Homo sapiens: one gene and its partner. The protein of the gene in region 1 purifies or fractionates together with the protein of each later gene. This does not show direct contact. Each region holds a gene or a part of one and is shown on either strand. Other genes may lie near its edges.

What was found. The genes of interacting proteins can lie anywhere in the genome.
Region 2: the proteins of BMAL2 (region 1) and NSMCE4A purify together in Homo sapiens (co-immunoprecipitation; 2 studies listed by BioGRID and IntAct, with this or other methods). This does not show direct contact.

Annotation. Positions count from the first base shown.
Region 1 is NC_000012.12:27,335,816-27,342,843, forward strand, and holds part of BMAL2 (basic helix-loop-helix ARNT-like protein 2), read left to right. Parts: intron 1-7,028. UniProt on the Homo sapiens protein: Transcriptional activator which forms a core component of the circadian clock.
Region 2 is NC_000010.11:121,965,210-121,972,237, reverse strand, and holds part of NSMCE4A (non-structural maintenance of chromosomes element 4 homolog A), read left to right. Parts: intron 1-1,168; coding exon 1,169-1,299; intron 1,300-4,431; coding exon 4,432-4,583; intron 4,584-6,852; coding exon 6,853-6,952; intron 6,953-7,028. UniProt on the Homo sapiens protein: Component of the SMC5-SMC6 complex, a complex involved in DNA double-strand breaks by homologous recombination. The complex may promote sister chromatid homologous recombination by recruiting the SMC1-SMC3 cohesin complex to double-strand breaks.

The DNA.
Region 1 (7,028 bases):
GGGGAGGAGGGGAGGGACTGCCACTCCATCAAAGTTTGACTCCAGGAAAAACAAAAACTAACGTTTAAAATATATAGGGAAAGCCAAAATATCAGTAGGAGAATACAGTGATTTCAGTTTACTTTGTCCTTGTGAAATGACTCCCTAGTTCTAAAAAGCATGATGTTCTGTGCTGTGAACATTGAGGTAGCATCCTTTTGAAATCTCCATTTGTGTCATGTTCAGGAAATCATAAATGAGCAAATAACAATTCATTCTGGTAGCCCTAGTTTTCAGTTGTCTCATTTAATTGAAGACCTCCACTTCTCTGCATTGACAACTGAGTTACTCGGGTGCTTGGGGTCTGGGTCATTAGTCAGCATCATCATGGTCATAAGCATTTTCAGGGACCTCAGAGTGTGCCATGTGCCCTACAGGAGGCAAGGGCACCTGAGACATCCGCCTGTTCTGTGAGACAGTGATTTCCTGCCCTGGTTTTTGCAAGGTTACTACCTGTAGTGGCTCCCCTGGTTCTCAGCATCCCAGCCCTCTGTAGCCCCTGCCTTGCCCAGTGCCTCACCCCTTCCCAGTGGCAGGAGCCAGTGGGAACTAAGAGCCTTCAGTGTAAGCCCTTATTGGAGCTAGGACTGCAGGTGAGATATGTTCTCTGTAGTAGCGTGTAGTATTTCTAGATATTTACTGATAATTTATGCAATACTTAGCTATGTATGCCCTGCCGCACCCTGTTTCCTTCTCTTACTCAGGTGCTGTCACACTTACTGGTCCCTGACACATACTGTTTACATTGTATCACACTAGGCTATAATATCCCATTTACCCACCCAATTTTTTAACTTAAAATATTTTTAAACCTGGCTGGGCGCGGTGGCTCACGCCTGTAATCCCAGCACTTTGGGAGGCTATGGCAGGTGGATCACCTGAGGTCAGGAGTTTGAAACCAGCCTGGCCAACATGGTGAAACCCTGTCTCTACTAAAAAATACAAAAATTAGTCCGGCGTTGGTGGTGCGTGCCTGTAATCCCAGCTCAGGAGGCTGAGGTGGGAGAATCACTTGAACCTGGGAGGCAGAGGTTGTAGTGAGTCGAGATCATTCCACTGCACTCCAGCCTGGGTGACAGAGCGAGACTGTCTCAAAAAAAAAAAAAAAAAAAAAAAGTATTTTAAACTTCCTTAAAACTTCTTAAAATCAGTTCAGTTATACAGTGTTAACATTCTCACCTGAAAATACTTAAATGGTTGGCATGATAGGAAATTTGACATTTATGTAGCTAAATTATTTGTATTTCATTTCTCTAGTCTTTAATCTTATGGTTTAAATCTCTAGATGGTACCATTACAGCGAGATTAAAAACAAAGAAGTCTAAAGGAAAAGGAAATGTAAAGAGAATCATTCTTCCACTCTATGCTTTGCATTAAAGGATATTTAGAATTGAAGGTTAAGACTATTGTGATAAAACAATAACTTCCAAGACATTCAAAGTGTTTTACTTACAACATTTCATACATTTTTAAGTAGATTAGAAATATACTTTATCATATTTTCCAAGCATATCACAGGGAAAGTAGAGAATCATCTACTACCCTTCTTGACCAAAGTGCCTCCACCTTTGCCCCTGTGATATGTCCTATACTCAATTATGTGAAGGAACCTGCCTTTCCCCAACATAATGTACACTTTCCCACCTCCAGGCCTTTCCTCAGGCTGTTGGCTGTTCCTGGAATACCCCTGCCCTCCCTCTAGATGGGTCTGGAGAATCTTAACCAATCAAGCTTGAAGGCTGAGCGCAGATGTCACTTTTTTTGTATGTGTGGAGGAGGAGAACTGGTGTGGGAAAATCAATATAAGCTTTGGAACTAGGCCACTGGGCTTGTGATTTCTGGTTTCATTACTTGTCAGCTTTGTAAACTTGGTCAAATTTTAAAACTTCTCTGAGCCCCAATTTCCTTATCTGTAGAATAGGGGTAAAAATACCTAACTTGGAAGGTTGTTTTGGGAATTAAATGAGATAATGATTACAAACTGTTTAATGAACTCTGACCTTCAACAAATGATTTTCCCCTTTTCCTCATGCAACCTTCCCAGAATCTCCTCGTCACCCAAATTGAAATTATTCTCCCCTCCTATTTTCACACTGTAGTTTTTTTGTGTGCCTATGATAACACTTGTGCCTGTCTGCCACAAGTTATTTGGTTTCTTAGCTCCACCCTTAAGTTGCACATTGCCAGGAGGCCAGAATTGGTTCTTACTCAGCTTTATAATCTCCAATTTCTTGCACCTATTAAGTGCTTAATAAAGGCTTGCAGATTTTGAATGAAGAATAGTTTGCTTAAGGTGTGGAAAGGGTTAGTTCATTCTTAAAGGACCCATTAAATACGCACTATTTACTAGGCAAACAGAGAAGCAGAAGTGGATAAAGCAGGAGAAGGGGTTAAAGAGCTTACAAAATCTATTAGGCTGGGTGAGAAATGCAGCCAAAATATTTGTAATATAAGGTAGGCACATGGTACAATATATGGGCTAACTGTTAGGAGTTAGTCTCCTCCCCCACAGTTGGGAGAAATTATATCTAGTTCATGAAAGAGGGACCACAGAAGGCTTTCAGAGAAGGGGTTAATTTTAGTATCGATGGAAAGACAACTCTTGGAGAGGCAGCCAAAAAAAAAAAAGGTTTGGGAGGGGGTCTTCCAGGGAACAGAGTAGGCATGGAAATGGAAAATCACCAGTGACATGCACAGAAGAATTGATGTTAGTATCCTTTGGCTTTGGATAGGAAAACTGAAAAGGAAAGAACTGGCCTACTGAAAAGTTTCATCATTTTCTATTGGGCTTCCCCTCCAAGGTCTGTGATGAGGCATGGACAGTGAACACAGGCAGCCTGTCTTACACATAGGTGAGTTTCCTGCTCTACAAAAGGAAAGATACATGCATCTTCTTTTTGGTTCCTGGCAGGCAACAGAACTTTTAAGTCACCTTGAAAGGCAAATTATGGCATATTTCTGATCAGTAAGAAAGCCGGAAAGCTCACTGATTCCTGGTTCCTGCCAGATGGTTGTCTCTTAGGTCTTAGTCTTCACTCCAAGTTATCTGGGCCCCTTCTCTCTTTCATCTTTTCTTTCCTGAAAAGGGAACTACTACTATCTTTTTTTTAACTTTTATTTTAAGTTCAAGGGTATATGTGCAGGTTTGTTATATGGGTAAACTCGTGTCACAGGGGTTTGTTGTACAGGTTATTTCATCATCCAAGTATTAAGCCTAGTACCCATTAGTTATTTTTTCTGATCCTCTCCCCTCTCCAACCTTCCACCTTCCAATAGGCCTCAGTGTGTGTTGGTTCCCTCTGTATGTCCATGTGTTCTCATCATTTAGCTCCCACTTATAAGTGAGAACATGTGGTATTTGGTTTTCTGGTCCTGTGTTAGTTTGCTAAGGATAATGGCCTCCAGTTCCATTGATGTTCCTGCAGAGGACATGATCTCATTCTTTTTATGGCTACATAATATTCCATGGTGTATATTTACCACATTTTCTTTTTCTAGTCTACCATTTATGGGAACCTAGGTTGATTCCATGTCTTTGCTGTTGTGAATAGTGCTGCAATGAAATATGCATGCATCTTTATAATAGAACAATTTATATTCCTTTGGATATATACACAGTAATCGGATTGCTGAATTGAATAGTAGTTCTGTTTTTGGCTCTTTGAGGAATTGCCACACTGCTTTCCACAATGGTTGAACTAATTTACACTCCCACCAACAGTGTATTAGCATTCCCTTTTCTTTGCAGTCTCACCAGTATCTTACTTTTTGACCTTTTTTTTTTTTTTGAGACGGAGTCTCGCTCTGTCACCCAGGCTGGAGTGCAGTGGTGCGATCTCTGCTCACTGCAAGCTCCGCCTCCCGGGTTCATGCCATTCTCCTGCCTCAGCCTCCCCAGCAGCTGGAACTACAGGTGCACGCCGCCATAATAGCCATTCTGACTGGTATGAGGTGGTAATCTGATTGTGGTTTTGATTTGCACTTCTCTAATAATCAGTGATGTTGAGCTTTTTTTTTAATATGCTTGTTGGCCACATGTATGTCTTTTGAAAAGTGTCTCTTCATGTCCTTTGCCCACGTTTTAATGGAGTTGTTTGTTTTTTCCTTGTAAATTTAAGTTTCTGATAGATGCTGGATATTAGATCTTTGTCAGATGCATAATTTGCAAAAAGTTTTCTGCCATTCTGTTGTAGGTTGTCTGTTCACTCTGTTGATAGTTTCCTTTGCTGTGTAGAAGCTCTTTGGTTTAATTAGATCCCATTTGTCAATTTTTCCTTTTGGCACAATTGCTTTTGGTGTCTTGCATAATGAAATCTTTGCCTGTTCCTATGTCCAGAATGGTATTTCCTAGGCTGTCTTTTGGGTTTTTATGGTTTTGGATTTTACATTTAAGTCTTTAATCCATCTTGAGTTGGCTTTTGTATATGGCATAAGGAAGGGGTTCAGTTTCAGTCTTTTGCATATTGCTAGCCAGTTATCCCAGCACCATTTATTGAATAGGGAGGGAGTCCTTTCCTGGTTGCTTGTTTTTGTCAGCTTTGTCGAAGATCACATGGTTGTAGGTGTGTGGCCTTGTTTCTGAGCTCTCTATTCTGTTCCAATAGTCTATATGTCTGTTTTTGTACCCCTCCCATGCTTTTTGGTTACTGTTGCTTTGTAGTATAGTTTGAAGTTAGGCAATGGTGATACTTCCAGCTTTGTTCTTTTTGCTTAGGATTGCCTTGGCTATTCGGGCTTTTTTTTTGGTTCCATATGCATTTTAAAGTAGTTTCTTCTGGTTCCGTGAAGAATGTCATTGGTAGTTTGATAGGAATAGTATTGAAACTACAAACTGCTTTGGGTAGTAGATAGTCCATTTTAACAATATTGATTCTTCCTATCCATGAGCATGGAATGTTTTTCCATTTTCTGTGTCATCTCTGATTTCTTTGAGCAGTGTTTTGTCATTCTCATTGTAGAGATTTTTCCCCTCCCTGTTAACTGTATTCCTATGTATTTTATTCTTTTTGTGGTGGTTAAGAATGGGACTGCATGCCTGATTTGGCTCTCAGCTTGACTGTTGTTTATGTATCGGAATGCTAGTGATTTTTGCACATTGATTTTGTATCCTGAGACTTTGCTGAAATTATGCATCGGCTTAAGGTGCTTTTGGCCCGAGACTATAGGGTTTTCTAGATACAGAATCATGTCATCTGCAAAAAGGGATAGTTTGACTTCCTTTCTTCTTACTTGGATGCCCTTATTTCTTCCTCTTGACTGATTGCTCTGGCGAGGACTTCTAATACTATGTTGAGTAAGAGTGGTAAGACAGGACATCCTTGTCTTGTGCCAGTTTTCAAGGGGAATGCTGCCAGCTTTTGCTCATTCAGTATGATGGTATTATGTTGGCTGTGGGTTTGTTGTAGATGGCTCTTATTATTTTGAGGTATGTTCCTTTAATACCTATTTTGTTGAGGGTTTTTAACATCAAAAGGTGTTGAATTTTATCAAAAACCTTTTCTGCATCTGTTGAGATAATCACGTGGTTTTTGTCTGTAGTTCTGTTTATACAATGAATCATATTTATTGATTTGCATATGTTGAACCAAACTTGCTCCCCACGGATAAAGCCTATTTGATCATGGTAGATAAGCTTTTTGACGTGCTGCTGGATTTGGTTAGCGCAGCTACTTATCTCTTTAAATATACTTCACATTCTTCTGAAAAGCATAAGTACTATTTCATTTATTTCCGTGACAGCCTATTGGGAAGCAGGTATCTGCACTTTCCACATTTATTCGGCATAATGACCTATGTTGTTCTACCATCCCCATCACTCTGTGCCCTTGATGTGGGTACGTGCTCCAGATATGCTCGCAGAAAAGAACCTGGAGCACTTACAGACTTTTCCTGTGCAGTTCCATGGGACAAAGCTGAAGACCCTCAGCCTTGACTTCCGATACAAACACTTAATGAAGGTTTTTAAACAATAAGAAATCCGGTGCCCTGTGTCTGAACATACTCCTAATATGAAAAGAGCACTCATGGAAACAGCTAAGTGTGGTGACATCAGGAGATGTCTTGTTTGTTTGTTTTGTTTTTATTTATTTTTTTTATTTTTGAGACAGAATCTCACTCTGTCGCCCAGGCCAAAGTGCAGTGGTGTGATCTCGGCTCACTGCAACCTCCACCTCCTGGGTTCAAGCAATTCTCATGCCTCAGCCTCCCGAATATCTGGGACCACAGGTGTGCACCACCACAGCCAGCTAATTTTGTATTTTTTTAGTAGAGACGTGGTTTCATCATGATGGTCAGGCTGGTCTCGAACTCCAAGCCTCAAGTGATCTGCCCACCTTGGCCTCCCAAAGTACTGGGATTACAGGCATGAGCCACTGCACCCAGCCAGTTGTTCTTATTTTAATTCAGTTACAATGCAGAGGAACTCTGTCTTAGAAGTTACTTGTAAACAGAAACTCTATATATCAAAATACATTGTCTCTTATTTAGAAGCAGAGAATATAGCGAGAATATGTTATTGTGCCAATAGAGTACTTAAGCTATAAGTGTATTTTATAGAAATGCAGATTTTAAGAGATAGATCAGTATACATCTGATCTGTAGATTGAATCTATACCATCCATACAGTAGATGGGATTGAAATTGATTGAATACTTGACAGAGGGCATTATCAATAGATGTTAAAAGGAATAGAAGATTATCCAGACTAATAATTGTTTTGTTAAAGATCTAGAGAAAAGTTTTGATGAAACAGTGAACACAGTTTCCAGCTCTATCTTCTTTCCTTGAACACGTACCAGCTCCCTGGTTGGAGAATTAAATTTTCTCTTTGAGTTTACATGGCACCCAAAGATAGGCTGTGCTTACACTACCATGGAAACAAACAATATTGCATTGTAGGTAGGCCATCTCTTCTGTAACAAGTCACCGAGGCAACCACTCTGACCTAGAAAAGAGAGACTAAATCCAATTCTCCATGCATCATGGTGCTA
Region 2 (7,028 bases), on another chromosome or scaffold:
CTATTCTCCAGCTTCAGCCACCCGAGTAGCTGGGATTACAGGTGTGCACCACCATGCCCAGCTAATTTTTGATTCTTTAGTAGAGATGGGGTTTCACCACGTTGCCCAGGCTGGTCTCAAACTTTGGAGCTCAAAGTGATCCGCCTGCCTCGGCTTCCCAAAGTGTAGGGATTACAGGCATGAGCTGCTGTGCCCAGCCTGTTTCTGCATTAATTTAAATCTTTTTTTTCCATAGCTTTTCTTAAATCCCATGTCCTCTGTCAAGCCTTTTTTGAGTATCCGTCCTCGGGTCACTACCTGCTACCTGTAGACTGTTCATTTGGGTGGCTTTGCTGGGGTTGCCTGTGAAGCCATACAGAGGCATGAGCCTCCTAGTGCCAGCCTAGCACATGCCATGATTTTGGTTAGCAACTTTAGCAACTTACCTATTGCTTAGCAGCTTACCTATTGCTGTTCACAAACCACCATGCCAAGCACAGGGCCCTACATGTAGTGGGAATTTGATTTTCCTTACGTCAGCACACATGATCATCGTGATTAGGATGGAGGGAAAAGTGAGTATTAGACATGACGGGTTTTGCTCAACTGGAGTTATTTAAGAGATTGTGATTCAGCTAACAGTAGGAGAACTAGACAGAAAGCTGGCTTTTAGGAAGACTGGTCAGCTTTCATTAGAGATTTTGGTGAGTTGGGCACAGGAGAAAGTTTTTTTTTGTTTTTGTTTTTGTTTTGAGACAGCCTCTTGCTCTGACACCCAGGCTGGAGTGCAGTGGCGCGATCTTGGCTTACTGCAAGCTCTGCCTCCCGGGTTCACGCCATTCTGCCTCAGCCTCCCAAGTAGCTGGGACTACAGGCGCCCGCCACCACGCCCTGCTAATTTTTTGTATTTTTAGTAGAGCTGGGGTTTCACCGTGTTAGCCAGGATGGTCTCGATCTCCTGACCTCGTGATCCGCCCGCCTTGGCCTCCCAAAGTGCTGGGATTACAGGCTTGAGCCACCGCACCTGGCCAGGAGCACGTTTTAGAAGGAGATGTGTCAGTTGCCTATTGAGATTTTTTTTTTTTTTTAGTCCAGTGGGAAATCCTGGTAAGTAGTTGGAAATGTAGGGAAAAAGTCTATGGATAATGTGTATTTTGTAATGTGAATATTTTCTTTCTTTTTTGAATAGTGTCCCGAGCAAGAGAAGCAGTCCTGGATGCCCACTTTCTTGTTTTGGCTTCAGATTTGGGCAAAGAGAAAGCAAAGCAGCTGCGCTCAGACCTGAGCTCCTTTGACATGTTAAGATATGTTGAAACTCTAGTAAGTTCAAAGCTACAGACTCTGAATAAAAAATGTTCTGTTATATATTATAATTATTTACTGTGCTCATATCCATATGCAGATGATTTCACTTCATTCTTCTTTTTTGGTCTCAGATTCCTCTGTAGAGATCTTACCAATTTAAACAGACGAAAGTAGAACCATGTGGTGGAATCTTGGGTGGGGGCTTGGAGTAAAAATCTCGTAGCATTCTGTCTTAAGATGCTGGGTGCTATGGTCATTTGCCAATGGCCATTTTTCCTCTGTTCACTGGTGTTCTAGATCATTCTCAGTGACCTCAGACCTTTGTCCTGGGCTGGACAAAAGCCCACTCTGCGATGGCAGAGCTCAGCTGGAATTGAGTTAGGCCTGGCGAGAGGGCATGTTTTGGTCTGTCTTTGAGAATATTTCAAAACCATGTGAATATGATTGGGTTTTGCTTTTTTTTTTTTTTTTTTTTTTCCTTTGAGACAGAGTCTCGCTCTGTCGCCCAGGCTGGAGTGCAGTGGCGTGATCTCGGCTCACTGCAAGCTCTGCCTCCTGGGTTCACGCCATTCTCCTGTCTCAGCCTCCCAAGTAGCTGGGACTACAGGCGCCTGCCACCACGCCCGGCTAATTTTTTGTATTTTTAGTAGAGACGGGGTTTCATCATGTTAGCCAGGATGGTCTGGATCTCCTGATCTCGTGATCTGCCCGCCTTGGCTTCCCAAAGTGCTGGGATTACAGCCGTGAGCCACCTAGCCCAGCCAGGTTTTGCTTTTTTGGTTTTATGTTTTATTCACCTTTCTTTGTCTCTTGACAAGTTTGAATAGTGGTTACCTGCAATTCTAAAACTGTTCCTTGATGAATTTACCAAAAAAGAAAAAGCACACAGAGACTGACCTTGTATCTCACTTTGTTGTCTTTTTAAAAAATTCTATTCTGGCTGGGGGCAGTGGCTCACGCCTGTAATCCCAGCACTTTGGGAGGCTGAGGCGGGTGGATCACCTGAGGTCAGAAGTTTCAGACCAGCCTGGCCACCATGGTGAAAGCCCGTCTCTACTAAAAATAGAAAAATTAGCTGGGTGTGGTGGCAGGCGCCTGTAATCCCAGCTACTCGGGAGGCTAAGGCAGGATAATCCCTTGAACCCAGGAGGCAGAAGTTGCAGTGAGCCGAGATCGCGCCACTGCACTCCAGCCTGGGCTACAGAGTGAGACTGCACCTCAAAATCAATCAATCAATCAGTCAATCTGTCAATCTGAGCCAACCTCTGTCCTAGCACAGATAGCTGCACCTCAGTATGAATATTGCATTTCTAACTGGATGTTTATGTTAAATGGTTATTAAAATAATTTAGTACTATGAGATCTGATCAGATAATTTTTTTGTAAAGGCATGAGGCACCAGATTATTTCCAGTTTGTTTTTCAAACCTTTTCCTTTTTTTTTTTTTTTTTTAACTTTTTTTTATTGTGAAACATAATGCACTTAGGAAAGTGCACTGTAATATAGAGGTCAATAAAGTAACCATGTATTGGGTATTTCTTTAAAAATTACTTTATCAGGTTAAGCTCTATTTTTTTATTTTTTGAGACAGAGTCTTGCTCTTGTTGCCCAGGCTGGAGTGTTGCCCATGCTGGAGTGTTGCCCAGGCTGGAGTGCAGTGGCACGATCTCAGCTCACCGCAACCTCCACCTCCTGGGTTCAAGCGATTCTCCTGCCTCAGCCTCCCAAGAAGCTGGCATTACAGGTGCCTGTCCCCACGCCTGGCTAATTTTTAGTAGAGGTGGGGTTTCGCCATGTTGGCCAGGCTGGCCTCGAACTCCTGACTTCGTGATCCACCCGCCTGGACTTCCCAAAGTGCTGGGATTACAGGCATGAGCCACCGTGCCCGGCCAAGCTCTGTACTTTAAATAACATATCAAAATAAATTCTGGAAGTCTTAAAGCATTAAATATAAAACCTTAAATTAATAGTTGTCCAGTCTCTGGGTGGAGAAGACTTTCGTATGTATAGCATCAAATATAGACACTATAAGGAAAGATTGGTGGATTTCTCTGTCAGTTAAACAGACCAAAACTGCCACGTCTGCCTACAAGGGTGCAGTGGTAGTTCGGGCGGCAAGGGAATGGAGAAGAGCTGGCCATAGCGCTCTGACCAGGCTCTTGTAGCCTTTCTTTTCTTTAAAGTCTGATTGCCTTTAATAGGGTTAAGCTCCCTGAGGGTTTTGTGATTATTGTTTATATATGATATTGCCATCGTAATTGGATAACTTCTAGGCATTTTACAGTATAATGTAATAAAAATGTACTTTCATAAAAGTAAATTCAATATAACACATTTTCTGTAAGACAGTTTGAGATGAGAGAATTATTTGACTTCCGCCAACTCTTCCCAGGAAGGCAATTTTAAGATGAGCCATTCTCTCAGTGATGCCGGGCCACTGCTCTCTGGATATACTGAGATACAAGCTGAATAGAGATTTGTAGGAGGTTGGCAAAAAATTAAAATCTGAAAACCAGCTGAACTTCCTTGTGCTGTCTTGAAGCTTTTGATTTGGGATTTAATTTTATATTTATATGTTAGTGCAGCTTTACTAATACACGAACTATTGGTGATACAAAAAATCCCAGGGGGCTGAGTTCTGGCATACCTAAATACTTCTGGCTGCCAGTGGGCTACAGCAGGGTTTCTCAGCACTGGCACTATGGATTGGCATTTTGAGCTGGGCATGTCTTTGTTTTGGGGGCTGTTACTGTGCATTATATGATATTCAACAGCCTCCATGGCCTCTACCCAGTATATGCCAGCAGCATATCAGTTGTGACACCCACAAATGTCTCCAGGTATTGCCAGAAGACCCCTGTGGGCACGTATACCCAGGTTGAGAACCACTGGTCTAAATCATTTCACTTTCTCACCCAAAGGTTTTAAGTACATTGAGGAATGTTTTCTGCCAAAAAGAAGGTAGCTTTGGAAGCAGGACTTTAACTGTAAAGTTATCTTCACAGTAAGAAATTTAGCCAGCATGTTAAGACACTGAAAGCTGGCTTTGCGTCTGGCCTCTTAAAGGTTGAGTGATGCGGATTATTGGATGTGGAAAATGATTGCATGTGGCTTAACTGGGTTTTTTGTTTTCCTTCATTTTTGTAGCTCACACATATGGGTGTAAATCCGCTAGAAGCTGAAGAACTCATCCGTGATGAAGATAGTCCTGATTTTGAATTCATAGTCTATGACTCCTGGAAGATAACAGGCAGAACAGCAGAAAACACCTTTAATAAAACCCATACATTCCACTTTCTGTAAGATTATTTTAAAAATCCAACAGACCAGTTATTTGTGAACCTTAAATTGCTTTTTCTTGTAGGGACAAAGATTATTTGGTATTGTAGAGGTGACAGTCATGATGCCGTTGTTTGGAGACTTTTGAAACTTTGATATGAAAGTTCATAAACACTAGGCCGGGTGTGGTGGCTCATGCCTGTAATCCCGGCACTTTGGCAGGTGGATGCAGGTAGATCATCTGAGCTCAGGAATTCAAGATCAGCCTGGGCAACATGGCGAGAACCCATCTCTACCAAAAATACAAAAAATTAGCCCGCTGTAGTGGCCCATGCCTGTGGTCCTGGCTACTTGGGAGGCTGAGGTGGGAGGATCACTTGAGCCTGGGAGGCAGAGATTGCAGTGAGCTGAGATTGCGCCATTGCACTCCGGCCTGGCTGACAGTGAGACCCTGTCTCAAAAAAGAAAAAAAAGTCCATAAACTCTAGATGTGGATGGAACCTTAAAGGATCTCTCATTCTGCTTTAGCAGAAAAGGCCAGAACCTCTTTACCAGTGCTCTCCTGGCTCCTTTGCTTCTAGCTCATGAGACTCTGGGTTTATCATCTTTAAAATCCTTATCATATAGGAGGATGATACCTCCTACTGAGGGTATCTTATGAGTCTCCCAACGTCTAAAGTGACATTTATTATAATACCCTGTTAGATGACCACTGACTTGTATTTGAAGATTACTTGTCACTGCCACATAAACTGTCCAGTTCATTTTTTAGATAGAACTCTGATTTAAAAAAAAGATTTCTTTATATTTGAATGAAGTTGGCTTCTGTCTTAACTTCCTGGCATGGTCCTATGGAGAAATTAAGAACAGCTCTTACTGGCTCTTCTCTAAGAGGACCTTCAAGTATACTGGTTTTGTTGCCCAGTAAATACTTTAGGGTAGCCATCTGAGTTGTTCAGTCCTTCTTTAAGTGGTATAGCTCCTGGGCTTTTGTCTTTTCTAATTTGTCTTTCTAAAAACCATTGAGATTGATAGTAGCTCGGGTAGAAGGCCTTGGAGATGCCAATGTAGTAGTGTGGTGTGGGGTCTGGCATCTATTTTTAATAAGACTTCAGGTAACTCAGGTGCCCAGAGCCATTTGTGTATGTTCTATTTAATAGGATGTAGTCCAAACTTCTTCATCTTAGGATAAAGTCTAAATCTTTGTTTTTTGCTATTGTACTAAACTCATAAATCCTAGGTTATAAAGATAAAGCCTTAAACTTTATCTCATCATCCAGCCCAATTTCCAGCCACAATGAAGTACTTAAAACTCTGTGTCTTTGTACTTGCTGTTCTCTTGGCCTCCAATTCCTTTTCATCTTTTCCATTCGGTAAAGTTTGTTTATCCCACAGGCCCCATCTTGGAAGCCTCCAGCAACTTCTCCAGACAGAGGTGTTAGCAGTGTAGGATCAGATTTCTCAACCACGTCACTCCCATGTCTGGGTAGATATCTCTGCCCAAGTGTTCTCATAGCACTTGAGCAGTACTCTCTAAGCGCCCAGGATCTACCATGTTGCTTTTTTAAAATTTGATTAATTTATTTTTTTATACTGCTCCTTGTGGAGCAGGAGTGTTCCCAGAGTAGCCCACCATGTTATATTGAAATGGATCTGTGTGCATAATGCAGCTGTCCATCTACATCGTATATTTTTGTCTCCTCAAGGGTAGGGACCACATGAGCCTTATTCTTGGGGCTTTGATCTCTACATGATGCAGACTTACATCTATTACTGTAACCCAAGTCTGCATGAGGGCAGAATCCAGAAGGAAAAGGAATCCCATGGCTGTGACTTGCCCTGTTATCCTAAGACAGATGTGTTCTGTAGTCCTGGGCTGGGAGCCTCTGCCTTGGCCTCCCCAGATCAAAGTCTTCTGACCCCACTGGAGCTTCCCCACATACATGTTCATCCTTCCCCTGCTCTTAGAAGTTGGCTTTGCAAAACAATAGGTTGGGTGGTGGGAAGATGTCACAGGCATATTCACTGGCCTACTTTACAGGGCAGTATGTAGGTGTCTGAGGAGGTATCTGTGGTTGAGTAAAGCTCCTAGGAGTTCTTTTAGAAATACAAAGAAGGCAGAAAGGCTGTCACAAACCTTATCAAGAGTCTTACTCTGATGTCAGCTTGTATATCACTGATGTCTGGTCTGAATTTGACTATACCATGCAAACTACTTTTAGTTAGTAAAGTTAGTTTGTTTAACAAACAACAGGCAAAAAAAATAAATGAAAGCATACTTTTCATTAGGTTGGGTTCAATATACGGAGAGTGCCCTGTGCCAAAGCCACGAGTTGATCGTCCAAGAAAAGTTCCTGTGATACAAGAGGAGAGGGCAATGCCTGCCCAGGTTTGTTTTAAAATGTTGCTTTTAAAAAAACACATTAAAGTTAAAATAGCTGTTAAAATAATGTGCATGCAATTTG